Regions from separate parts of the Homo sapiens genome. Here region 2 is linked to region 1. The links come from fine-mapping of genetic effects on gene expression. A gene starts in region 1. The other region holds a variant in brackets. All regions are shown on one strand. Distances are between the middles of the regions. Region 1 holds the start of LMO3 (LIM domain only 3). Region 2 overlaps LMO3 (LIM domain only 3).

Region 1 (12,669 bases):
AATATTAGATTATTTGGTTTCACTTTCTGCTTCCATTAAATTAGAAGGAGGCTGCTTTGCCATTTCAACTGTATAAGAAAATGACTAACCCCATTTATTTCTTTAAGGATTACTCTTACCTTAAATTTGTTCACAAAATGTTAAAATAAAATTACACTATTGTAAAGCTGCTCCCTTCTGACCAGGGTAAATTTAGGGTTCTAAATTTAGTGATATTTTGAAAGCAGAGGCTATGTTTCCCTTAAAAAGACGTTGATACTACTACAAAAATTAAATGAATAATGTGTGTTCTTTTTAAGAATCTTATTTATTCTACATAGTAGACTTACAAGTCAAGCACTAGTTTGATATAAGATAAATTTGTTTAATCAATCACTGTGACTACTGTAAAATCAGCATCCCTTTAGTATGTTGGTGTAAGTGTAATATCTAAGTGTAATTTTTAGGTGACACACTAGTATAGCTGAGATGGCAATAGAGCATTTGAATTTATTTTGGAAAAAAGAAATAATAAATTAGATAAGATCTTACTAAATTTTAGATTAATTATCCCTCAAACAATCTACCCTATGTGTATTTACGTGTAGGAATATGCATATCTGTGAATAATAGCAGACAGCAGAGAGAGGGAATGAAAAAATTGAGAAGTATCTCTTAGAGCCATTGGAGAATTTCTCCTAAGTGTTAAAAAGCCATTTAAAACAGTATTGAGAACTCGATGCTGCCAGGTTCAAAGTGTTCAGTTTCAAAACCCTCAAAAAGACAAATATTAACTCTTTGTCTTAGGATACTAGTCCACATTTTTTTTTACCAGTAAGAGTAATCTTGTTGCTGGAATTATTTAAGCTACATATTTCTTTAGCACGGCAAAATGAAAGTGAATCCTAGGCACCTGTGTGTGGGAAAGTAGTCTACAGCAAAGCCCAGAGGAGCTGGGTGAAACACCAACCCAAAGAGATAGCGACCAGGGGCAAGCTAGACACAGGGGTTTGCCAACTTGAAATATGGGTTCTCTCAAACTTTGTGTTTGCCTTATGGCCTGGGGCTTTTATTCAGTATAACATTCAAATTCCTAGAAAAACAGCTCACTCCAGTTCTGCACCTCAGTCCTGTGGGGGTTAAAAAAAAAAAGATGAATGTAGCTATGAACTCTGTTCATCTTCAACCTAATGGACTCACCCTCCCTCCCCCATCTCTCTTTCCCTCCTCCTCATAACACCCTTTGTCCACTTTTATGAATTAAAACATGCACACACACTTGCACACACAGGGAATCCTGCCCATTAATTAAAGGACTTGTCAGCCCCAATCCTAGATTCTTACAGTGCAGGAAATGTCTCTCCTTTTAAGTGCAAAACCATAACATTACCATTTCCCCAAGTGCTCTCTGTTTTAGGCTGCTTTCCTAATTAGAGGGATGATAACAGCCCTGCTGATTGGCATTATAAAAGCACTAGTTTGGCTTCATCTGTCCCAGGTGTGCTGTGTAATTTTTTTCTTCTCACCGTTTCAGAGCACTACCTCTCTCCTTCATTGTTCCTTAAAGTTTTCATCTGAGGAATTAATACAGATAAAAAGACATTAGAAAGGAAGCACCACTGCCAAAGCTCATCACTGAAACCTTTTATCAAAAGTACAAACTATACAAGTTAGAGGATTTTTTTTTTACCCTTTTGTTTCTGAGGGTTAAGGGGGTGGGGTGGGGGTGGTAGTGTGGAGAGGAAAGGAGAAGAGAGGCTGGGGGAGAAAACACAGCTCTGTCAATGGACTGAATGCACCATTAAAACTGGCGTCACTACAAAGGTTAGAGCAGATCTAACTGTCAATACAGTGAGTAGAGTGGAGTCCGGTAAGGGGGAGCTTTGGTGAGAGATACTTTGATATTTTGGAATGTTAGAAGGGTGAATGTGAAAAATTGGAGGTTGGGGATCTAATTACCCAACCATAATTGGGGGCTAGGGAATAAGTTGCAGTCCTCTCAACTCACCGCAGATCAATTATGTTAAGAGAACATCTGTAAGTAGAACTTAATGAGGTCCATTAGAGCAACATGTACAGCCTCCTCTAACAGTACTTGTCAGCTTCTTGGATGAGCTGAAGGAAGCTGCTAACTAGGGACCTGGCGAGGTGTTTAAATACTGGAGGAGCAGCTCTGGCCCACTCAGGTTTTGTATGCAGTTCGGGAAGAAAGTGAGAAAGGGAGAGGCACACAAGAAAGACAGGAAGCCTGAAGCAGAGGTTTCTTTCATTTGTGTTGCTGAATTTCGAAGAGTGATGGTGGGAGTGTGTGTGGTGGGGGCAGTATCAACCTCATCCTTCCCTTGACCGAGACCTTTCACTGCTCCTGGACTTTCAGGGTGTGCTATCCTTTGCCTCCCCCCAACAACCTGTCTGCTGCCCTAAAAAAAAAATTAAAAAAAAAAAAGACGGCAACCTAACCGGAGCATCTCTGGGACGCCACAGAAATCGTAACTGAACACCCGCACACAAAAGTAATCTGTGAGGTGTGTTTTAAAGAAAGAAACAGCTGAAAACTTGAAGACGTGTTTAGAAATATACATATATACACACTATTTTCTTGTGGGAGATCTCCTTTGGGCAAAGGTAAGTAGTATATATCTAATCACCCCCTCAGCACCCTCCTCCACCCCATTTTGTCATTCCCCTCCCCTTTTCCCCTCATCAAGGTATCACAATATAAGACCCCTGAAGAAGACAGTCTGCCTTTTTTTTTCCTTTAATAAGTGTTGGGATGGGGGCTGGATGAAGTAAATTCTCTCATCAAACGTCTGATGATGAGTTGCAGAAAGAGGGCACAGGCAAAAGGTAATCGGACCAAAAAGATCTGGCTCTTTATAGCAATCCTTTCGCAAAGATTTCCAAAGGATCTGTAATTAAACTGGGTAGTTTACTCTCAGGAAATGAAGAAACTGCTTGCCTGGCTGGATCCAACCTTTAGCTTGGCTGAGTAAACAAAAGCACAAATTCTTCTTTCACTTTTTCCCTCGCGGGAGGGGTGAGACTTTGGGGTTGGGGGGAGCCAGGAAAACAGGGAGTTTGCTGAGGGTTAATGGTGTTTTTCGCAAAGTGTCAGCAGAAGATGATTAAATTCCACCTCTTGTTCACCAGATCACTTTGTGTGCACTTGTATATTTCATTGTCGGCAACCGCTGATGATCACATCTGTGCAGTACATTAAGTGGCAAGCCTCTTCATCTGCACGGGGTTTTTCTGATGATTTTTTCTGTGAATAATTCATATGATTATGAAGAGAAAAACTGCTATTTTCTATCTCTCTCCCTTCTGTAGCACAGATTAAAAAAAATCTTGCTGTAAATTGCGTGATTGGGGAGATAGCCTGCTTTCAAATAATTTAATTCATGACAAAACCTAATTACTGTCAGGTAATACCCTGTCAGCTTTAATGCATTTCATCAGTCATAATGAAAAGAAGAGCATTTTATGACCCATCTAATTATCATTACATTTTAGGGGAAAATGAATGGCATGGAGCTGAATGTTAACTATTCCATTTTATTCCTTTACACATGTGGTTTGGCATATTATTCGCTAAGTTCCTCTCTCTCTCTCTGTCTCTCTCTCTCCTCTGTCTCTCCTTCTCTCTCTCTCTCTCCTCCTTGCTTGGCAGTATTACTTGCTTATAAGTGTGGGGGAAATGGTAAAATTGAGAGGAAAAGGAAGATTGGGGAAAAAGGAAGAGGATGGGATGCACTTAGAGATCTGGGTGTTTGTCCCTTAAGAAAAAGGTGACAAAGTGGTTAATGTCTTTGCAGGTTGGTGTTGATATCAGGAATCTTACTGCCACAGTCCAAATAGAGTACTAATTACCGCGAATGATGTCACCGTAGGCAGAGGAATAATCCCATCATTTAATTAGTTGAATGATTTAAACAAAGATTTGCATAGATGCACTAATCAGTTGCCATGAATTACAGAGCAGCAGTTGCCAGCGAGGGGTAACAGATCATACAGTTGGAGGGAAAAAAAATCTCATCTCCTTGAACATAATTAATTTAATTGTCCTCATTAGCTGTACCATTTGTTTTGATTTTATTTCTCCCTTTCCCCACACATACTTCTCCCTCCCTCCCTCCCTCTTTTCTTCTTCTCAGTGCATTGGCTGAGACAGAGCGCACGAGACACACACACATGCATGCACACATATGCACACACACACACTCACACATACTGGGGTGTTTTCAGAGTGGCTGTAGCAGAGAGGTGGGGTAGAACAGTGGGGAGCTGTGCGGATGGGTGAAGTGCATGTATGCCTGCCTAGACGGGCCAGAAAAGCCAAACTTAAGAAATCTGCCTATGTACAGAACAAGTCAACTAAGGGGTTCTCATTAATCTACCGTCTGTGAATATCGTTATTTTTCAGGTTAGTTCTGAGTTTTGTTGCCTTTTAAAGGGAGAGGAAAGCAAACCACAGGCTATTTTATTATGAGCCTTCAAAAGGGAGGGGGTAAAAACTAGTTATCAATGTTGTGCCTTTATTCTTTATGAAGAAAAACAAAATTTAGCTTAAATACTCATGGGGGGGGTGCTTTGATTTTTTTTTTAAAACTAGAGCTAGATTAAAACTGATGGTGAAGAGAAGAAAAAAAGTTTTTTGTAGTTCAACAATTGAATATTTCTTGGCTCTTAAACATTTCAGTGAGTGTCTTTCAAATGTGGACCATTTTTAAGCTTGACCTCTGACAAAGCTTTGTAAAATCTGGTGAGGGTACTTTAAGAGCAGCCCAAACAGAGGGTGACTTTGAAGTTTGAAAACTTAGAAAAATAATAAGGTATTTTAAAGCTACCAGTGGCCTTTATAGATGCCAAGGAAAGTTAAGAGGAGAGGAGGTTAGAGAGAATGGGACCTATTAGAAAAAAAAAAAAAATCTGTCAAGGCCTTAAAACAAGCCTGTGAAGACAAAGCAGTAATGGTGCAGAAACTATGGTTCTTTGACCAAGTTAGTCCTGAAAACATGTTTCTCAGTGCTGTTGGCTGTTTTTCATTGGAGCGTGTGAGTTTTAAATAGTAAGGAATTCAAGTAATTGCAGGAAGTGTGTTTCGGGGTGGTGGTGGTGGGGGTCAGCATTAGTGAATGGAGAACAAGTTCACAGTTTGGGTCTTGGGCCATTAGAGGAAGGGAGGAAGGGAGGAAGGAGAGTGTGTGTGTGATCCCCTGAACCAGGCTTGTGTGGCGGACTTGCGGAGCAGCGACTTCAGAGAGTTCATGAATGGAAGTCACAGACAGACCAGCGACTGCAGCCACCTCCAGGCATTTCTTAAAGGGGAGGGTTGTGTGCTTTTTCCAGGGTATTCTGGTAGCAGTTTGATTCTCTTGCTTTTATTTTAATTTCCATAATTGGTAGCTTCAGAAATGGCTTTGGAAGGCAATTTGCTTTAAATGTAGCCACCTATTCCAAAATGCCCTGGTTATTTTAGGAACCCTACCCTTTTCCTCCGGAGCTCTCTCGCAGGAGTTCTTCTTTTGGACTGGTCCAGGAGGTAGGGTCCTTCCTCAGTCGACTCCTGCAGAGGTCACATTTTGTGTGCGGGTTTGTCCCCAGCGTTTGTGAGTAGCATATGCATGTGGTTGTGCTGACTGCACTCGCAGGCTTGTAAATTTTCACCCTGGGAAATTAGCAACAAAGCCCGATCTGTCTCGTGGCTGCTTTGCACTTTCCGAGGGCGGCTGTACTTGACTGAGCTGCAGAACAGGCACACGAGAGCGAGCGAGGGAGCCAGCGAGAGAGGGAGGGAGAGAAGGAAAGAAGAGGGGAGGGGTGGGGGCGAGAGGTAAATAGTCTTAAATCGGAAGGGAGCTGCTTCTCTGTGGTCTTGACAAGCGCTGCCTGGGCTCCGCCGGCTCACTAATAACTGAGTGACCTTTTCTTTGGCTGTATTATGTCTGGCTGGGAAGGGATTGCATTTTGCAGCTGAGAGCCGGAGCTTCCTTCAGCTCGGCTCCTCGCACGCTGCTGGGGTAAGTTGTCTTGAACCAGGACGGAGAGAGACAGCCTCGGACTGCAGTTGCCTAAAAGGAGGACACCTGTGGCTCAGATGCGGTCAACACCATTGCTTGGCGTATCCTTGAGGACCTCATTATTTTAAACTTAAAAAAAAATAGACATTCCCTCCCCCGTCTTTTTTTTTTTTTTCAAACAATGCTTCTTTTTGACCTTTCCCAAGGAGAAGCGCTACAAAGCAGCCACTGTGCTTACTGAACGGCCTCCCCCTGTATCGCTTAATTGAGAAGGTAAGTGCAGCAACTGTGTACACACGCGTCGGCTTATTTGTGGTGTGTGTGTCTGCGGGTGCGCGCGTGCGTGTGCGGATGTGGGTATTTTTTTCTTCCCCAACCTCTGCTAATGAGGCATAAACTGGAGCTGCAACCCAGCTCCGCACTGCAACTTTCACTCGGGCTGCAGCTCTACTGAGACGGTTTTGTTTAAATCATGTGAGGCTTCATTATTTTTATGATGAGACATGAAATAGATGCAGGCGGAAGATGTTGATGGAAGGAGGGAGAGCGGCTGCGGCGCGGAACGTCTCAAGTACGACTCGAGTGGATAATAGTCAAAGTTCACCATGAACTGCAGTATTTCCACACCCCTGACTCCCGGGGAGAGAGGGGCAGGGAGAGTTTGGAATTAGGAAGTGTTTGCTCCCAGCCCATAGGAAAAGAATTCAGTCCTGGGTGGGTTTCCGGACCCCTCCCCCTTACTTGCTGGAATTCATGAACCCCCACTTCTTAAAGAGTTGATATTACAATCTTTTGGTCCTTGTTGACGCTTCTGCCTCTCTCCACGCAGCCATAATAACAAAATGTTGTTCCTTTGCCGTGGAAAAGTGGCTGTGTTTGGGCATGGGGGCGGGGGGGGGGGGCAGGCGGGTAGGGGCAGAAGTGGCTAGAAGAGGGAAGGTCCCTGGACCAAGGTGCCTATATCCTAATAGATTGAGATTCAAACTGATGCAGCACATTTTTTACGGGGACTACTCAGATTGCTGTTATGAAATACAAGTCAGATTTATGATCTTTTTCATATTGAACATGATATGCTATGCTAACGCTGCATGTGACAGTTTAATCAAATCCATTTGTTACCAGGAAGCTAAAAGGGGCCGCTGGGATTTTAGGATTACGGGCAGAGTTAGGGAAGCATGTGGCTTTGTCATTCGCCATCATTTTGCACACTGCGAGGGGCTCCGTGTGTGCGCCCTGTCTTGTCTGGCCGTCCTCATCCCTTCCCCCACCCCCTGCCGCCACTCCGACCCGCTCCCAAAGTGGCTTCACAATAGTCGGTCCTCGGCGGTGTAGGCTGCGCACCAGGTCCACACTTAAGCGAAATCAAGGAGACCCCCTTCTACTTCTACCTTTGGGTTTGGTGCTCAATGCGAAGCTGCTGCAACTCAGACACGCCTAAGTCAACTCATGCAGAAAAAGGAGAAAAGTTTTGGTAAGGTTACAGTCTATCATAGATGCACTTTGCTGGCGCTCTGCACTCCTGGCCGCTCAAAAGCCTTTCTGCTTTTCCGCTGCTTTTGTGTCTTTCTGAAAGAACCGAAATATTATTGTTGTAACTGCTTTGAAAGACTGCTGCTTAAACCAATTAATCTTGCTAGATGCAACAAATACTGCTACATTCTTTGCAAACCATCCCTGTGTGGCTGCAAAGACACAACCACAAAAGGCTGGAGCATAAACTCCGCAAGGGATTCTTTGTTAGAGTGTATGTATGTTTCTTATTTTTTTTTTTTATTTTGCATGTGAGCTGCATCAAAATTGAACTCAGTCTTGCAAATCTCTTGTTGGCCTTTGCCAAGCACTAGCACTTTGCTGCCATGGTAACTGTAATTAAACTGATAAGAGTGGAAAAATGTCAGTATCTCTGAGCCTTGCAGCTGCATTGGAGAAAAAGGGAATCAAATTGGTTCCCAGCTCCATTGCTCAAAAAGGGGAGGGGGGTGAAGGATAGGGAAGGGGGCTGGGAGTTGAAGGGGCAGAACAGAGTTAAGCAGCTCCAGTGCCTGAGATCTGGGGACATCTATTTGCATTGTTGTCCCTTAGGGGGCTGCAGCCTGTAGGGATGCTCTGGGCCAGTGAACAGAGAGAAACAAGCTTTTAGGCCCAATCCAGTTTTCCAACCTGGGTTGGGGGCTGGGAAGAGGATGAAGATGGGCAGGAGGAGAGAAAATCTTTTGTCTGGTGCCTCTTGGCAATCGAATGGCCATGTTGGCCAAATTCTTTTAATCTGTGTCAATGCTCCCAGCTGCAGAACCTGCATTCCCATTTTAGCATCTTTCTGAAGCACCTCATCTCTTCCAACCCCCTTTATGTATTCCCTCTTCCTCTTCCCTCTCCCAAATTGTTCTCTGTGAATTTTCCGACGGACAAAATGTTTTCTATTCACTCTGTGTAGTTAGTCCAAAAATGTAAGACTGTGTCTAAGTGCTGCAAATCTTTCATTATTATTATTTTTTTTAAACCCCTGTGTGTTGTGGAGTTGTGGTTACTTTGTTGTGTTAACTACTGAAGCTGAGACTGTGCGGATGAATGGTACAGAACAAGGGAACATAATGGAGGCAATCAACCGTTAGGCCGCTTCACAATGCAATCCAGGCAATTAAAAGCTCACCAGAGTTTAAATGAAATGGTTCTACTTATTTCTGCACACCACACTGCACAGGCTATTATTTATGTCTTTTTTTTAATTATGATTTCCCTTAAACTGTCAAATAACTCAGAATGGCAGGGTCTCAGAGGCAATAAGAATTTCCCTCAGAACAATTTACATGCCAATCTAAAACTAGTTATGAGTTCTGATGTGCTATGAGCAACTTGTGAAATGTTTCTTAGCTACAAACACGTAACTCTACCCAGACATGTTCTTCTGGTGGAAGAGGGGAGACTGCTGACTGCTTTATGCCTTTTAAGTACACGGTAACATGGTGACTACAAAATAGTTCTTTTGCTACAATTGTTAACTTGCATGGAATTCAAGAGATTCCATTTTCAAGAGAATTGCCATGATGTTCTTCAAATAAGGTACCAGGATGGAGTGTGAAATATCAAACTCCTTTTATGCCCAAGGCCAAACAGAATGTAAGAGTTTCAAATATTAATTGGCCTCTGAGTGCTAAATTAAAATGTCAACACAACAAAAACATTTTGTGAAGACAAGTAGGGTAGTGTTACTTGTGCCAAATGTTGGTATCCCCTGTCTTGGTTGCAAAGCATTTTGAATAAAACAGCTGACCTTCTATGCTTGATGGTAGAAACACAACTGTGGGAAATATAACTTAGCTGCTACTGGGATTTTTTTTTTTTTCGATTTTTCATCTTTGAGCTTTGTGATAAATAAAAATAATAGCCTTACAAATTTAATAGAATGGCCGTTAATTAGGATGGCTTAATTAGAATGGCTTCTCTTAATATTTATTATCTAGGTGTTTTCAGTAACACCATCCAGAATTTCACTGAGTAAATCAAAACTTCCCCTTCCCCCTAGATATGTGGTTAACAGGCACTTGGATCTGTTGTTCACTGTAATTAATGGGATTCACTCCTTGTGGAACCTTGCTAGAAGAGGATAACTAGTTCTGATCAAAGAAACTTCATTTGTTAGAAGTTCTAGAGAGTGAGATTTAGCAGAGCTATCAAGGGTTATGATTAATCTACACTAGGCCCTTAGCTCCTTCAAAGGAAAGGAACAGAAAGCAGGCTATAGGGATACCACCTGCTCTTCTTACAAATCCAGCTGTTAGTCTGCAGCTCCGGTGACTACAGCTATGCTTATGATGCAGAAAGAAAGAACAGCTACTCTGCTTTATTTCCTGCCATTCCCTACACAACTCTACCAGACGAGTTATTTTCTAATGAAAGTTCAACATCCTAACAATATTTTGTGCAACTCATGTATTATTTGTAGTTAGAAAAGTTATTCCGCTCTGCGGATGCCTTGATGTCTCTTACCAGTGGGATTTTTTTTTTAAAAGGTTGTGAAAGTTGTGATGGGGGTGAAGCCTTCATCATAAGATATCAGAGGAAACTGGAGGAGGTTTAGCTGTTTTGGAGAAGGAAAATGTACAAAAGTGCAGATTATAGCTTGACATTTCTTATCCTATAATGCATGCACATTTGGTGTTTTGTATCCTTCTACATGCAAGTTTAAAACTTTATGCCTAGGAGAGCAAACATAATGCAGCAGAAGGGTCTCTGGACTGTAAGAAGGCCATTTGGCTGGAGTCTATAGCGTAACTGTCTTTCAGCTTTGAGCAAGTCTCTGAACCTCTCTTGGGCCTCGGTAACATAATTTGTAAAATGAGGGAATTTGGAATTGATGATGTCTGCAGTACTTTATAGTGCTTAAAATGAGTTATTTGATAAATATGAGGCATTGGATAGTTGGTCCAGCTTCTTGCTAAAGCTGGGTGTTTTAATACCTAGGAAATAAGAAGACACTCAAGGTGAATGTCCATTCATTCAAAAGATTTCAATCAAACTGTAAAGCCCATGGAATCCAGCTGGATTCCTTATTTATGATGGATTTATACCTTTAAAATATATAAATGTTTCTATGTTTAGCATAGTATACATATAACATGTATATATTTACTTATATATGTTTGTATAATTGTATATATATTTAGATCTTGCCTTCTATTGTTTTTTCTTTCCTTTATAAAACAAATAATTGCATGTTTATGGTAATAAATGGTATAATCATATACTTTAGGTTTACATAAAAGCATATAGTATATAGTTAAGTAATCTGCCATTAATATAGGTGCTGACTGATGCTTGTGAGTATAAATGTTATATTTGAACACAATGAATACTTTGAAATATCAAGGACATAGAAGAAGTATTTGGATGCAAGCAAGAAATATAGGATTGGTGAGCTTTTTGGGTAGCTGTTCTGTGTACTTAACTATAAACACCTCTACTGCTGAATAAGGTTAGTGTAACCCCATACCAGGTGCCCTCTCCTTCCACCATCAAGCACATATTAAGTGAAATTTTTAAACAGTTAAGCAAAACTCATTTTTTTACTTGTAGGGACTGTGCATAGATTAATTTGTTAAATAGCTTTCTTTTCAGATTGTTATTTACTCACATTTTCTTTCTAAAGGAACTGCTCTATGGGGAGAATGAAGATACTATAAAATTATTTAATGTTATTGAACTTCATATTTATAATGTCAATTTACCATGGTCAACATGAATTTATTATTATTGTCACTTGGCATGTGTAACTTTTTGAATGATTTAATAAGCACTTGATAAAGTTTGAGACTTTTTGTTTCCAAAATTGGGTTTGATTTCAGTATAGCCCTAAACAAGAAAAGCTAACACTCCTAGAATAAGGAAATATTAAATATTTAACTTGTTTGAGGTCTTTTTATTCTGTCTGGTAGTCTCAGCTCTCTTTTTTGCTTTTGTCTTCCTTTAGGTATACAAATGCTCTCAGTCCAGCCAGACACCAAGCCGAAAGGTTGTGCTGGCTGCAACCGAAAGATCAAGGACCGGTATCTTCTAAAGGCACTGGACAAATACTGGCATGAAGACTGCCTGAAGTGTGCCTGCTGTGACTGTCGCTTGGGAGAGGTGGGCTCCACCCTGTACACTAAAGCTAATCTTATCCTTTGTCGCAGAGACTATCTGAGGTAGGAATTATCCTTGCACACCAGTGATGACTGGATGCCTTTTAAAGTACTTTTGTAAGTGTATTTTTTGTTTGCTTGTTTCATTTCCTTACTGCCAGCTTATATTCCTGAAAGAAGTTACCTGTCAGCCTTCAAAGCGTTGCCCTGTGTGTGTTACTCAAATTAATGCTTAAGGAATAGCCAACAAACCACAATATTTAAAGTATTTCAATTTGGCTTGCCTGCACACTCAGGCAGTTGGTTATGGCGCTGCCTATGTTGAAACTGCCAGTTAATGTCAAGGATGTATTTGGTCGAAATCAGCATTCAGGTTGATTTACTTATTTTTTCTTTTTTTTCTTTTTTTTTTTTTTTTTTTTTTTTGGAGCTTAAGGGGGAATGGGGGTTGAGCATAACACAAAGAAATTGATCAGCCATTTGGCAAAATATCTTAACTATTTTTAAAAAGTTCAACTTGAAAAAAATGGACTGTGTAAAAGAGTTTAATTGTTGCCTCTAAGTTGGACCTGAATTTAGTCTTCTAAAGTTATTCAGCTGTCTTCTCTGTTTCAGGTGTGTCAGAGGAAGTCAGGTGCAAATCCTTGGTTAATATCTATTAGTGCATTTATTGTAGAGTTTTGAAAACTTTCCCCAAGTGTAGATACATCTTCCTCTCGCCCCACCTCATGACATTCTAAACGGGAATCTCAAAAATACAACTAAGCAATTGAACCGCCTCAGACTTGCCAGTAGTTTTATGGATAATAACAAAGTAAAGACCTCCATCATTATAGGAAAATGACAGCCACTCTCCAACCTGTAAACATCTGAATGCTTTCAGGACAAGGCAGGTGTTCTTGGTTATGGAGCTATGAAGCCTACTAAAGCTTGTTTTCCAGCATTAAGTACTCAACACAGAATTTCTGCTGAAGGAAAATTATTTTGCTTTTCAGGCAACTTTGTGACTTACTTCAGCTGCAAATTACTTATATTAATAAAGTAGGATC
Region 2 (12,669 bases), 26 kb after region 1:
ATCTCTACCCCGACGGTATAGCCTTATTGCCACATCCTAGGACAGGCTTTGGGAGACAAGTGGTCCTGCCAAGAAAGGACGTCCAAAGATGAAATGCAGTGTCTTTGCATATGTCCTCCAGAATTCAGTTGGCCTGAATCTGACAATATTATACAACAGATTTTTTTCTGTGGACGTAGAAGATAATGCTTAGCGTGAGATTTGTCCAGACACATTGTCCAGGGCCTCTGTGACTCAGCTGTGTGTTGGAGGAGAACCAGAAAGCCTTGCTGGGGAAGATTAGGATCCTCCGCTCTCCTTGCCACAGCCATGCAGTGGTTCTCCATTCATGCACGTGTTTTAGTTGTTTCTTAGTTGTTCCGTATGTGGACTTCATCGTATCATGACATCTTAACACTCTGTGTTCTTGCCAGAGATTACAACTTCAAATGCTGCTTTTCCATTCTTATGTTTTAAGAAGTCATCTGAAGGAAATAGTATTTATGGCAGATTACCTGAAAAACTGGATGTTGAATTATTCCTTGTGATGGTTTTTAATTTATCCTTCCCTGTGTCTTTGATCTTGACCCCTATTGTTTTGGCCCCTCAAAAATTTTTATGGAATTGTACATCAAGGTTTTGCTGTTTTCCTGTGTTGAAGATTTTCATTAACAGCTGCAAAAACATCAGTGTCCTAAGGATGCTATTGGGGACTTTGTTTACTGTATCACACAATGTCCTACCGCCTCACTGGTGAAATGTCGCCCAGATCTTAGGATAAGCAAGATTTCTGAGACTATAAATGACTAAATGATGTTTTACTTGGGCCTGTGAATCATATACATGTTGACATTTTCCCTCTTTTCTTTGTTTCCTGGGAAGCCCAGATCAAATTTACTTTCTAACAATTGTTTAGAAGTATATATGTTAATTGATTCTCCAGCCTTTTGTAATTTCTCACCCATATTTTCCTTTCTATTATTATATTTGGAGCTGCTTACATCACCTGAGGATTAGTTTTGACATCATTCAAATGAAATCACTTAAATAATTGGAATGGGTGGACTTCAACGGAAAGAAAATACAGGTGGGAACATAGGGCCTGATGCATGAGAGATGCTCAGATAGCTGAGTGAGAGGAATTTAGGAAAGGGGAGATTGTGATGAAATTAGTTTTCTAATCTGCAATTATATGTAAAATTAGGTGAATTTGAATAATATTTGGGAACAATATTTGAAACAACATTTATGCTCACTGTGTAGGATGAAGATGGTAGCAAAAATAACCTTTAATATAGGTTAATATTAATCTTTGTGGCCAAGTGATTGTTTAACATAAAGTTAATCCACTTTTTAAAAATATATACACAAATATGCAAATCCTTTTTCTTGAAGCAGTAATCAATAACTTGTTTTCTACCATGATACTTGAATGTAAATAAAATAGGCTGAATTATTTATCTTGCCAAGGGCTAAGACGGGAATTACAAACTCAATTGCCTCCAGGTTCCGGAGTCTGGAAGGAAAAATAACGTTGTGAACTGGGGCTTGCATGCGCCACCCAAAGGGGGAAGCCATGACTTAATTCCAGCACACTGTACGAATGTGGGCCTAATGTTGCTGATTTTTCTGGATAAACCAGATATTTTTTCTAGATATTTCAGTAAAATCTCTTGTATATAAGACATTGGCAACTAACTCTAATGTGGCACACAGCTACTAGTATGTAACTTTTTGGTCAGAATCATAAAATTCTGGTTTCAGATAACTGATCAGGCCCTTTAATGTGTACAGTTCGCTAAGGTGTTTGAAAATATTTCCTCGCATCCTGAATTCTTGAAGAGAGGATCAGAGCCCTTCATCCAATGTATACCAGTTACACTCCTGCTTCAGAAATCTCCTGGGAGCTTTCAGCCTAACAAGGAGTCTTGGCACTGCTTTGTGAGGCGAGAAGCAGCCCGTCCTGATAAAAGAAATCTCTTGCTGTTTCTTGAACTTCATGGCAGCCATTGCAATATGTTTGGACTTAAGTGGGATATTTTCTGGGACCCTCACTGTGCCAAAGCTAAGACATCTGAGGCCATCCACCTCTAAACAGGCCTCTTACCCCCCCCACTCCTCCACTTGCCAATGTTAATCTAAAACGTCTCTTGTTTCCATTCCTTTCCTCATTCTCTGTATATTTCTGCTGTTACGTTCACTCAACACTTTTCCACTGGGTCCTCCAGAAACCTCATGTCCTTGTCAATAACTTTTGCTGTGTCCACAATCTTTTGGCCAGATGCCTTTCCCATCAAAATATTGTTTTAACTGAATTTCATCTGTTGCCTTACCTGAAACTTGCCTCTCCTTTAAGGAGGCAACTTTTCTTTCAGCTGTCAACAGGTGCAAGGTACTACTTACTCATGTAAATCCCACATTCCATGAAGCCAAGAGGAGAAACTGGCAATCTTAGATACACATAACTCTCCCCACTCACTACTAAAAAATGCATCCTCCAACAAAACTCGTACATCTAATTATACTACCTTTTACCCCTACTCACTGCTGTCATTTCCCTCTTACCACAATTCTAGGGATTCTAAAAGGCTTAGAGATGACTCACTTGAAACCAAGCCCTAACTTGTTGAGCCTCCTTGACCCTACTGAACATCAGCCTGCCATCCCAGAATTATATACAGTGTCTTTTCCTTATGGAAAAGTATTTCATCTCAGGAATCTTAAACTCCACACTGTAGTCCTGTTTCACTTGTAATAGCACTGATCTTTGATTTCAGACATTCAGCTCTCCTGTCATGTCTCTTTCTCCTAATTTGGTCAAACCTTTAAGACTTCTATCTTTCCTGCCCACTATGAACCCAACTGTCAATCAGGCAAGTCCCCTTCACTTCCATCTTCTGTGTCTCCTCCCATGCCTGTGCTAGCTCAATTTTCACCACTGCTCCAGTCTAACAAATTGCCATGGGTATGCTACCCTTTTTCAATCCATTCCTACAGTGTGGTTAAGCATTGCTAGAAACAAGCAAATAACATACAGATTGATATTCCCTGATGTTTTTTATCAGGTTTGATATAAATCAGCCTCTTACATTTTATCTGCTTTTCCATTTATCTTTAATTTCTTTTATCCCATCTATGGGAATGAGGTCTTCCTATTCCTTCTAAGGCCAATTTTATGTCCTTGGCTCCATTCCCTCCAGTATTCTGTGTGTCTTCATTTTATGAGGTAACTTGTTTTTCTTCAGTCTTTAGTATCTTCTTTTCTACAATTACTTGACTGTCAACATATGGCTGTACCCAAGATTTTTCTGTTCTGTAAAAAGATGCTTTATCCCTCAAATTTATGTTACTGTTATCAATTCCCCTATTGTCTAATTTTTTTAAAAAAAAAGAACAGTCTGTTGTTGTCATCCATACTCCCTCAACCTCCTTTGCACTCCTTACCCACTTGTGATCTGGCTTCTGTCTCTCACCACTCTGCTGATACTGCTGTTACTGACATCCAATTGCTAAAGCCAATGGGCATTTTATCCGGGATCATCTTACAGTCTCTCTTCTCTTTTAATAGTGTTGATCATTTATTCTCTTTAAAAGCTTTCTACTGTCTTGGATGCCATGACCCTACAGTTTAGATTTTTTTTTTTTTTTTTTTTGAGGCGGAGTCTCGCACTGTCACCCAGGCTAGAGTGCAGTGGAGTGATCTCAGCTCACTACAACCTCTGCCTCCCAGCTTCAAGAGATTTTCCTGCATTAGCCTCCTGAGTAGCTGGGATTACAGGTGCATGCCACCACTCCCGGCTAATTTTTTTATTTTAGTAGAGACGGGGTTTCGCCATGTTGGCCAGGCTGGTCTCGAACTCCTGACCTCAGGTGATCCACTCAATTTGGCCTCCCAAAGTGCTGGGATTACAGGCATGGGCCACCGTGCCCGGCCTAGTTCTGATTCTTTTCTGGGCGTCTCATCCCAATCAGATACTTAAAAGAGTGAGGGACCGTACCTAGGAACGGTGATCTTGTTGTGGTATACTTATTTTTCCTAGGAGATGTTATTTGTCCTCATGGTTTCAATCCCTCCTCTTATTGTGATGGCTCAATCTCTACCCGTAGCCCATTACTCTCCAACAAGCTTAAGCAATGTATATCTAGCCACTTCCATAGTATCCACAATTAAGTGTTACACAGGAAGCTTAAGTTCAAAATATGTAAAGCAGCTTATGCAAAACTAACATAACTCTAATACAGTACCTTGACCTGATAAAGACAATATAAAATATAAAACACTAATGCTATTTTTGCATACAGATACAAAAACTTGAAAGATATTAGCAAATAGTCTGTCACTGTCTAAAATGAATAATACTATAGGAACAGGTAAGATGTTTTCTAGAATTCAGAGAATGAACACCAGGACATATCTCAATCTAATTCATTGTATTATCAAACTGGAGGAAGAAACACCATAGTTATGGCAGTCTGTACCAAAAAGGCAATTGATAAAATTCAGCCATTTCAAAACTTCCAAATAAAGAGAAACAGGAAGAAACCAGTTAAATATGATTAAGAAAATTTACTGAAACCTAACTGCAAATTTATAAAACAGCTAAATACTAAAGTAATTTCCATTAAAGCCAAGAAAAAGCCAGGGATACTCATTATTGTCCCTCATATTTAATGTTTTAAAGGGTCTAGCCAATGTAATAAGATAAGAAAACGAAGTAAATAAATATAAATAGTAAAAAAGATAATTATTTTATCTGCAGAAAATCGAGAAAACTCAAGAAATAGGTACATTTAGCATAGCAGCTAAATAAAAAAGTAAATCAAATTTATAGTTTTATTCTATGCCAAAAATAGCTTGTTAGGAATATAAAAGAAATTAATAAAGAGTAGTAATACAATTATTAAAATATATATGCTTTAGAGTTCAGCATTCATATGAAGAAATCTTTTTAAAGGAAAACTCTGCTGAAAAAAAAGTCCTCTATTTTTCTGTTCTTCCCTGCTAGATAAGTATCACAGAAAAATCTCAATGAGACTGATGGTAAGCCTGTTATAATAGCAATGGAATTTTGAGTGTTTGTTTTAACATTGTGAAAGAAAGTCAACAGAATGAAACTCAGATCATGGCAAATATTTCTTGAGGATTTACTCTATAATGGGTAGTGTTATAGGAACTGAGGCTCCAGCAGTTAAAAAAATGGACAGAAATATTTGCCTTTATGTATCTTATATTTTAGTATTATTTTTCAGGTATTCTCAATGAGTTATATATGTGCTAAGTGCTGTACAGATGTAATCTCCTCTAGCCCTTGGGAACTACAGTATTATTAAACCCATTTTAGAGAAGAAGGCACTGAGGCTGAGGGTAATTAAGTCATTTAGTCAAAGTTCCCAAGGTGCAAGTGATGGAGCTAGGATTCAAATCCAGACAGTGTGACTGACTCCAGAACCCATCCTTATGAGCTGTACTCTAGTGTTTAGTGACTGAGGACATGGCTTCAGGGACTTACTCCGAGGTCCCCATAAATTGATCCTGTCATCTGTAATTGAATTTTCAATCATTCAAACTCAAGCACTGATGAACTTCCTTTGTTTCTCTCCAGATAACCAATGGTTTTCTTGTACCTAACTATTTACAATGTTGATTAATTGTAGATTAGAAAAAAATTTGTTAGTGGCTGCAATTTCATCAAAACATTAGTTATAAAATAGCACAACAAACATAAACTTGAGGGATGACTGAATGTCTGTGTTGTATATAGCATGTCCAATACACAGTATACTTATTCATAATAGATTTAAAACAAATAAGGTGTTAACAGTGGTCAATTCTGTTTCTTTGTATAATTAATAAAAGCTTTTATTGCAAAGCAACTATAAGAACATCGTGAAAAATTTAACAATAGAGATTAGCAAAAATGCAGTAACAAAATCACCATGATTCTACCAGAACCTACTAATGTTTGCTCTAATTATTCATCATTCCAAATCTTTTTCTACCTGTATTTATGCACATGTATGTATTTTTTATCAAATTGAGATTGTATTTACATTCTGTTTTGTAACCTAATTTTTTAGACTATGATCTACATTTTTCCATGCTAGTGAAATTTTATATAATCTACTACCTGATCCTTGTTCAGATTTCTCTAGTTGTCCCCAGAAAAGTCCTCCAAAGGTTTTCCAAATCAAGATCCAATCCAAGATTTCACTTTACATCTGATGGTCATGTCTATGAAGTTTCTCTTAATCTTGAACATTGTCATTTTCATGACATTCACTTATTAAAGAGACCATAGAAGTGGTCCTCTAAAATTTTTCACCTACTTCATTTGGTTGGTTGCATCCTTGTGGTGTCTTTGCTCTTGATCCTTCTATTCCTAGTGCTCCCAGTAAAACAGAAGTTGCTTTAAACATTGACAAAATTCAGATATTGCCAGAAGCAGTGGCATGCACCTGTAGTCTAAGCTACTAGGGAGATTGAGGTGGGAGGACCACTTGAGCCCAGGAGTTGGAGGCCAGCCTGGGCAACATAGAGAGATCCCATCTCTATTAAAAAATAAAAATAACGTAGGTGTATATTTTGTTTTAGAATACATGATAAATGATATCATATTGTATAATATCAGGAAATACATAATATCTGTTATCTCACTATTTGTGACACTTAAATTGATCATGAGATGATAAACTGATCCTGCTTTTGTACAGTTACACCTTTCTCATTGTGACCAGAAAGCACCCTGTGCAACATTACTTAAATACCAACAGATACCTGGTTCTCTGTTGGCAATTAAACCTAGTGGGTATAAATAACAATGGATAATCATTATCTAAATCAGTACAGGTTGAAAAATTAGATTGTCATCCTATCACTTCTACATTTATAAGCTGGTATTTTTCTGTAAAGTATCGCATTCACTCGGCCACTGAATCTATTGGTCATTCTGAAATGCTATTTCTACTGGAAAAACAAGATAAAAATTTTCTGAATTCTTACTGAGTGCCTAGTAGGCTAGGTGGGGTTGAGAGAGAAGAGGCAGCCTCAGCCTTCCTACTGAGTAAGACTTCAACTAAAGGATTCCACCAACGTGATCTTTCTTTACTTAGAGCCATTACCCTGGCTAAGATTCTAAAATCTTTTTTTCAAATTATTAGGCCATAATGCCGACAAATAAGAAGCAAGGGAACTATTCACTTATACATCTGCGTTGGCTTTTAAGCTACTGATATACCATCACCAAATTGTTAGTCAATTAAATGTAAACTTGGAAGGTTATGTAAATCCTACCAAAAAAATTGTTTCTCATCAGTGGCATCAGGCACATTTGATTTTACTTCTTTTCTGAGGCTCACCAAAGACCTCCTTGTGAAACACAGCTATTGTTTTTCTGGTAATAATTATCTGAACAAATTTGGACAATTCTTGTTCTTGGTTTCCTAATTCTATTGGAAAACAGCCAAACCATTTAATGACGGTTACCCTAAATATCTAAATTATGTGTATCTAAGGGAATATATATATACAATTTAATGCTAGAAGAGAAAACATGTTGTTCTCTTCAAAAAAAAATCCCTGTGGAAGTTTATGACCTTTATAATCAGTGCCTTTTTAAAAAACTAAGCTCTAGAGAGTGTTTGGGTTGGAAAAGGTCACCTATTTGCAATGATACA[G/T]TCTGTCAAGAGTGTGTACAAATGTAATATACTAGACCTTAACAATGCAATATACTTCATTAGAATAAAGAACTTTTTCTTTTCTTTTTATTTCAAGTGAGACTTTGTTAAGTATAGAACCATGAATTATTTCTCCTTGAATATATTCTTCTAGTGAATTAATGTTTTGTTGTTGTTGTTGTTGTTGTTGTTGTTGTTGTTGTTGTTTGAGACAGAATCTCGCTCTGTCTCCCAGGCTGGAGTTCAGTGGCTCGATCTCGGCTCACTGCAAACTCCGCCTCCCAGGTTCAAGGAATTCTCCTGCCTCAGCCTTCCAAGAAACTAGCATTACAGGCATGCACCACCACACCTGGCTAATTTTTGTATTTTTAGTAGACATGGGGCTTCACCATGTTGGCCAAGCTGGTCTCGAACTCCTGACCTCAAGTGATCCACCCGCCTCAGCCTCCCAAAGGGCTGGGATTACAGGCATGAGCCACGGCGCCCGGCCTAATGTGATTTTTATTTTAATACTTTGAAACTTTTATACCTAAGGTCAGACCTGAGCATGGGCCAGCCTGAGACCATCTACTCCAAAGAGAGCACAACTGCTTCTTCTCTTCCCTGTTCCTCCATCCCTTCTACCTGACCCCTCCCCTTTCTCCCTCTACCCCATGTAGAGTTAAAAGTAGGAAGTTATTTTTAATTTATATTGTTCAGGTAAGCTAAGTAAAATACAATTGTTCTCAAACTTGAGTAGTTTATACAAGCTTTGGAAGAAAAAATTCTCTTAGAATTCCCCTAAACATTCATTGTACATGAATTTGAGAAAATTGCAGTACTGTCACTTTAGGTAGTTAGTTAACATTTTCTAAGTTTCATGAAACTATGAGTTTAAAGAAAAACTCAGTCTCTGTTGCCTGGCAAGACTTCTGGGAGGCGATGAGGTGCCGTGAGCAATGAGGACAGAATATATTTCTTATGAAAGTTGTTGCCTACTGAGGACTGGAGTCCATTGTACATCTAATTCCAAATGAGATGGTGGAATTAGTTGTAGTGTTGCCAGACAAAATACAGGATACCCAGGTAAACTCAAATTTCTGATAAATAATGGATAATTATTTTAGTCTAAAAATGTCACATAAAATAATTTGTGATCCTAAATCTGGCAGCCATAATTAGGTGACACATTTAGAAGAAAGTTAGAAAGAACTGTGGCCCTGTTAAATTGATCCAGAGAACCATCATGGGCAACCTGAATATTATTATGTTGGTGAGATGGAGCCATTGTAAGTTATTGAACAGATGAGTGAAATGAGGAAATTACTGCCTTAAGGAAAAAAATTCTCCTCTAGATGTGTGCAGAATGATTTGTTATGAGATGAGAATGTCCTTTCTGTTTGTTTGTTATTATTCTTACTTGTCCTCTTCCAAAACTATACCACAAACGTTTTGTGAACAGGGGAAATTCTTATTTGTTTTATTATATACAACATCTAGTAGAAAATCTGGCTGATAATAGGTACTCAATAAATATTGACTGGAGGGTAGAAGGAGGGAGTGGGGTAGAATAATATATTTAGGAATGCTGAAATAAATGCAATAAGATGACAACCTATATGATGAAAATAATGAAGAATAACTGCCAACTACTTAGGAAAATGTGATTTTAATAACTCAGCTTATTTAGGAGGCCTTCATGGAAGAATTGTGATAAGAGATGGTCCTAGAAGCTGAAAAGGAAATTTAGGAGATGATCCTAAAAAGAAGAAAGTTTACGGCCTTTCAGAATTCAGGTGGGTGTTGGTGCACCTTCTGACTGTCTGCCTAAGTTAGGTATATAATATCATGCTGTTTGTTAACTCTTTAGAGTAATGGGGTAATGATGGTAAAGAAATATCACTAGATATGAGGGATACAGATGTTACCAGTCACAAGTTTTCTGCATCTGCTAATATTAGAATTCTGATGTGTTGGCACCTAAACCATCTTGAGTGTGATCAAAGACAGATGGAATTGGTGCTAAGTTTCAGCAAGTAGATTCTCATGTTGCCTAGCAAGCTTCCAGTGTAGTTTTACTCATATAGCTTTGCCCTTATTGGGTTATTTCTAAAATAGATAGTTTAGGAAAGAACGTGGGGAGGGTGGTATAATCATTTCTTTGTAACAGCTTTTAAGTAATTTATTTTTGACTTCCACCTACAGGTCTTATGTCCATTGTACACTGAATTTAAAATGGTATTTAAAAATAGATGGTACTAATCTAGGGGTCATAAGTAAAATCCCTGTATGCAGTCTATATAGTTGGACAATGCAAGAATGTTAATTTCCATTTATATATCTCTACATTCTAATTCAGCAGTTATGGAGCATATGAACATCACATGTGTTAGGTGCAGAGTAAAGGAGAAGGCAAGTTTTCAGGGAGCTTATTATGTAGTGAGAAAGAGACAAACAGGTACGTAACTGATACAGATTCTGAAAGATGAAGTAGTATATGAAAACAAGTGCTTAAATGTCTAAAGAAGTGTGTTATTTATTCTGCCTCAAGGAAATCAGAGAGGCTTCATAGATCCATTGACATTTGATCTGAATATGAAAAAAAAGCAGCAGTAGTCTTCCAGGAAGAATAGATTTAGTAGGAACTCAGCAGGCAGGAGTGGTAGGACATCAGGTGTGAAAGTAGATGCTGAGTCCAGGGAGTAGACAGCACATTGGGGCTGAGGCTCAGTGATGGGATAGAAGACAGAAAAGAAGACAGACAGGATGGACCTTTCATGCTTCCCTGCATCTATCCTGCATACAGTAGGGGAGCTATGGAAGGTTATAAGCAGGATCAATGGGTTGGAGCTGTGTTATAGAAAGGCTACCGGCTGCAGAGTGGAAGGCGGACAGCAGGGCAGGGCAGGCTGGTGGAAAGATGTTCAGCTGGGAGGTTGTAGTATGAGTGCAAGGGAGAAGCGATGCGCGCTAGAAGTAGCTTACTGAGACAAAAGAGGACAGATCCCCTTTTAACACAGCGGCAGGGCTAGATTTGGGGGTCTGAGAAGAGGAGGCAAATTCAAAGTTAAGTTCAAGACCTGTGGCTCGAGGGACTTGCAAATGTTCCGACATTCATTTCTACGTGCATTGAACATGGGGAGAGGGAGGGTAATGTAGTCTGCAGAAGAGAAGGATGTCACGTAGGGAGAACTAGACTGTAAGGCCCTGGTGAGTAGAAAGTGAAGAATTTAGCTTTATGTATAAGCACTTCCTACAGGTCAGGACATGAAAAGTGATCTTTAAGAGGTAGTAGTGAATAGCCTCTGAGGCTCCTTCTGTTGTTCTCTTGACACAAGAGGGGAAATCCTAAATGGCTCAGTGTGTGGAGTCCAGCTCTCCTATTATCTATCTATGTGACGCTGGGTGTATTACATAATTCTGCATGCCTCATTTTCCTCATCCATAAAATGGATGAATAAACCTGCCTCATTCAGTTGTCCTGAGGATTAATGAAATAACTCGTGTCAAATGCTTAGAACAGTGTCTGGTACAGAGACAGGGCTCAATAAACATTAGCTCTTATACACTAAGCCCTTACATAATTGACCAAATTTCGTATTGATATTGATTTCAGATGTTTCTTTAAAATGTAAGCAAAGGGAAATCTTTGGACTAATTTGTCTAATTTGCGGAGGTATCATTATCAGAGAGGACTTGGTCTTTTAGTTGCTTTTTCCATTAAAAAGGCTTCGTAGACAGTATGACGTTTAGTGTGTGGAAATTGACCTTATGCCTATATTTTTGAAGATAAACAAAGCTTCCATTTTAGTGGGGTTTTATTCATATGGGTTTATTTATGAATTTTGAGCTGCAAAAGAGAATAGGGAGCTTTTTATAAAAACATGACGGACATCATAATGTTAAGTTTAGATTATAACTTGGAAGTCAGTACCAGGTTACATAATACTGTAGATTGCCCTGTTATGTTTTTCTAGGTAAAAATAAACAAACGAAAACACCTTTTCTTTTGTGTGTTTTGTGTTTGTTTCTTTTTGTTACTAGTTTGTCATACTATGTATCATACTTCAATTGAGGGTAAGAAAGGAGGTGCCTTATGTAGGGAGCACCCTTCTAGGTATCAGAACACATAGACTCGGACTCGGCCAGATTTCTATCACTGCTGTTAATGACTATGAGATCTTAGACATGTCACTGCTACCTCTCTATACTTCTGTTTCCCCACTCACAGAATGGATGCCACCTACCACCTCTCAAAATGTATGGTAAGGATTAATTTTTCTATTACAGATTTATAGAAGACTTTCTTTTCTAATGGCCGATAAATCCTTTGCGGTTGGAAACAAGCCATTTTTCTTCTTTATGTGTCTTGCAGTTAACAGAGCACAGATAGGAATTAGCTCCATTGTGTCAGTAAGAAAACTGAGATTTAAAATTTAAAAAGTGGTACAAATAGGGGGAAAGTTCCTAAGTCACCTTTTATCCCCTACCTAAAACACATCATTGGTTAAGTGCTTTGAACCTGTCAGAAAGACTATAAGAAAAAATACCAAGTAATATCAGCCTGCTAGTCTGGGCTGTTGGGAATATCTATTATGCCATCTGTCACAGGAGATTTTAGGTTGGAGAGCAGCAAATCCGTGACTGGGGACTCAAAGTTCAAAAGCAGAAGGTCTCTCCTCTCTGCACACCGTGTGGTGTCTAAATCACTATCCGAGAGACAGGCGTTTTCGTTGATCAGACATCCTGCATCTGCAACTTCATTTAAAAATAAAAGGTTTAAAGAGTCATCGTTTATACATTGTTCCAAGGTCCCTGTAATTTAAATCAATGTGATCGAGATATGTAATACAAAATTTCTAGCCCTACTGTCTTCCTCTAACTTACTCTGGGTCTTGGTGGTGTTGCATTTTTATAATGGAGCAAATCGGCAGAGTAGGTGGAGGAAGGTTGGTTTTCCAAAGGGATCAGGTAAGCTGCAGGTCCACGTGGACACATTTGTTACTTCGGGGAAGCGGGGAAGCGGAGAAGCAGCAA

The links. PIP is the estimated chance that this variant, and not a neighbour inherited with it, causes the effect.
Region 2: its variant is fine-mapped to the expression of LMO3 in subcutaneous fat (GTEx, PIP above 0.99).

What each region holds. Positions count from the first base shown.
Region 1 is chr12:16,599,669-16,612,337 of GRCh38, reverse strand. It overlaps LMO3 (LIM domain only 3), which reads left to right and starts at 6,176. Exons shown (of 4, transcript NM_018640.5): 1 at 6,176-6,272; 2 at 11,470-11,683. The coding sequence starts at 11,478. RefSeq lists enhancers at 1,854-2,353, 7,242-7,742.
Region 2 is chr12:16,574,010-16,586,678 of GRCh38, reverse strand. The region is part of intron 2 of LMO3 (LIM domain only 3); the gene reads left to right. It also overlaps a transcript of MGST1 not described here. Among named protein-coding and RNA genes, the nearest start is that of LMO3, 26 kb to the left of the region's middle. The variant G/T (reference allele first, on the strand shown) is at 7,654.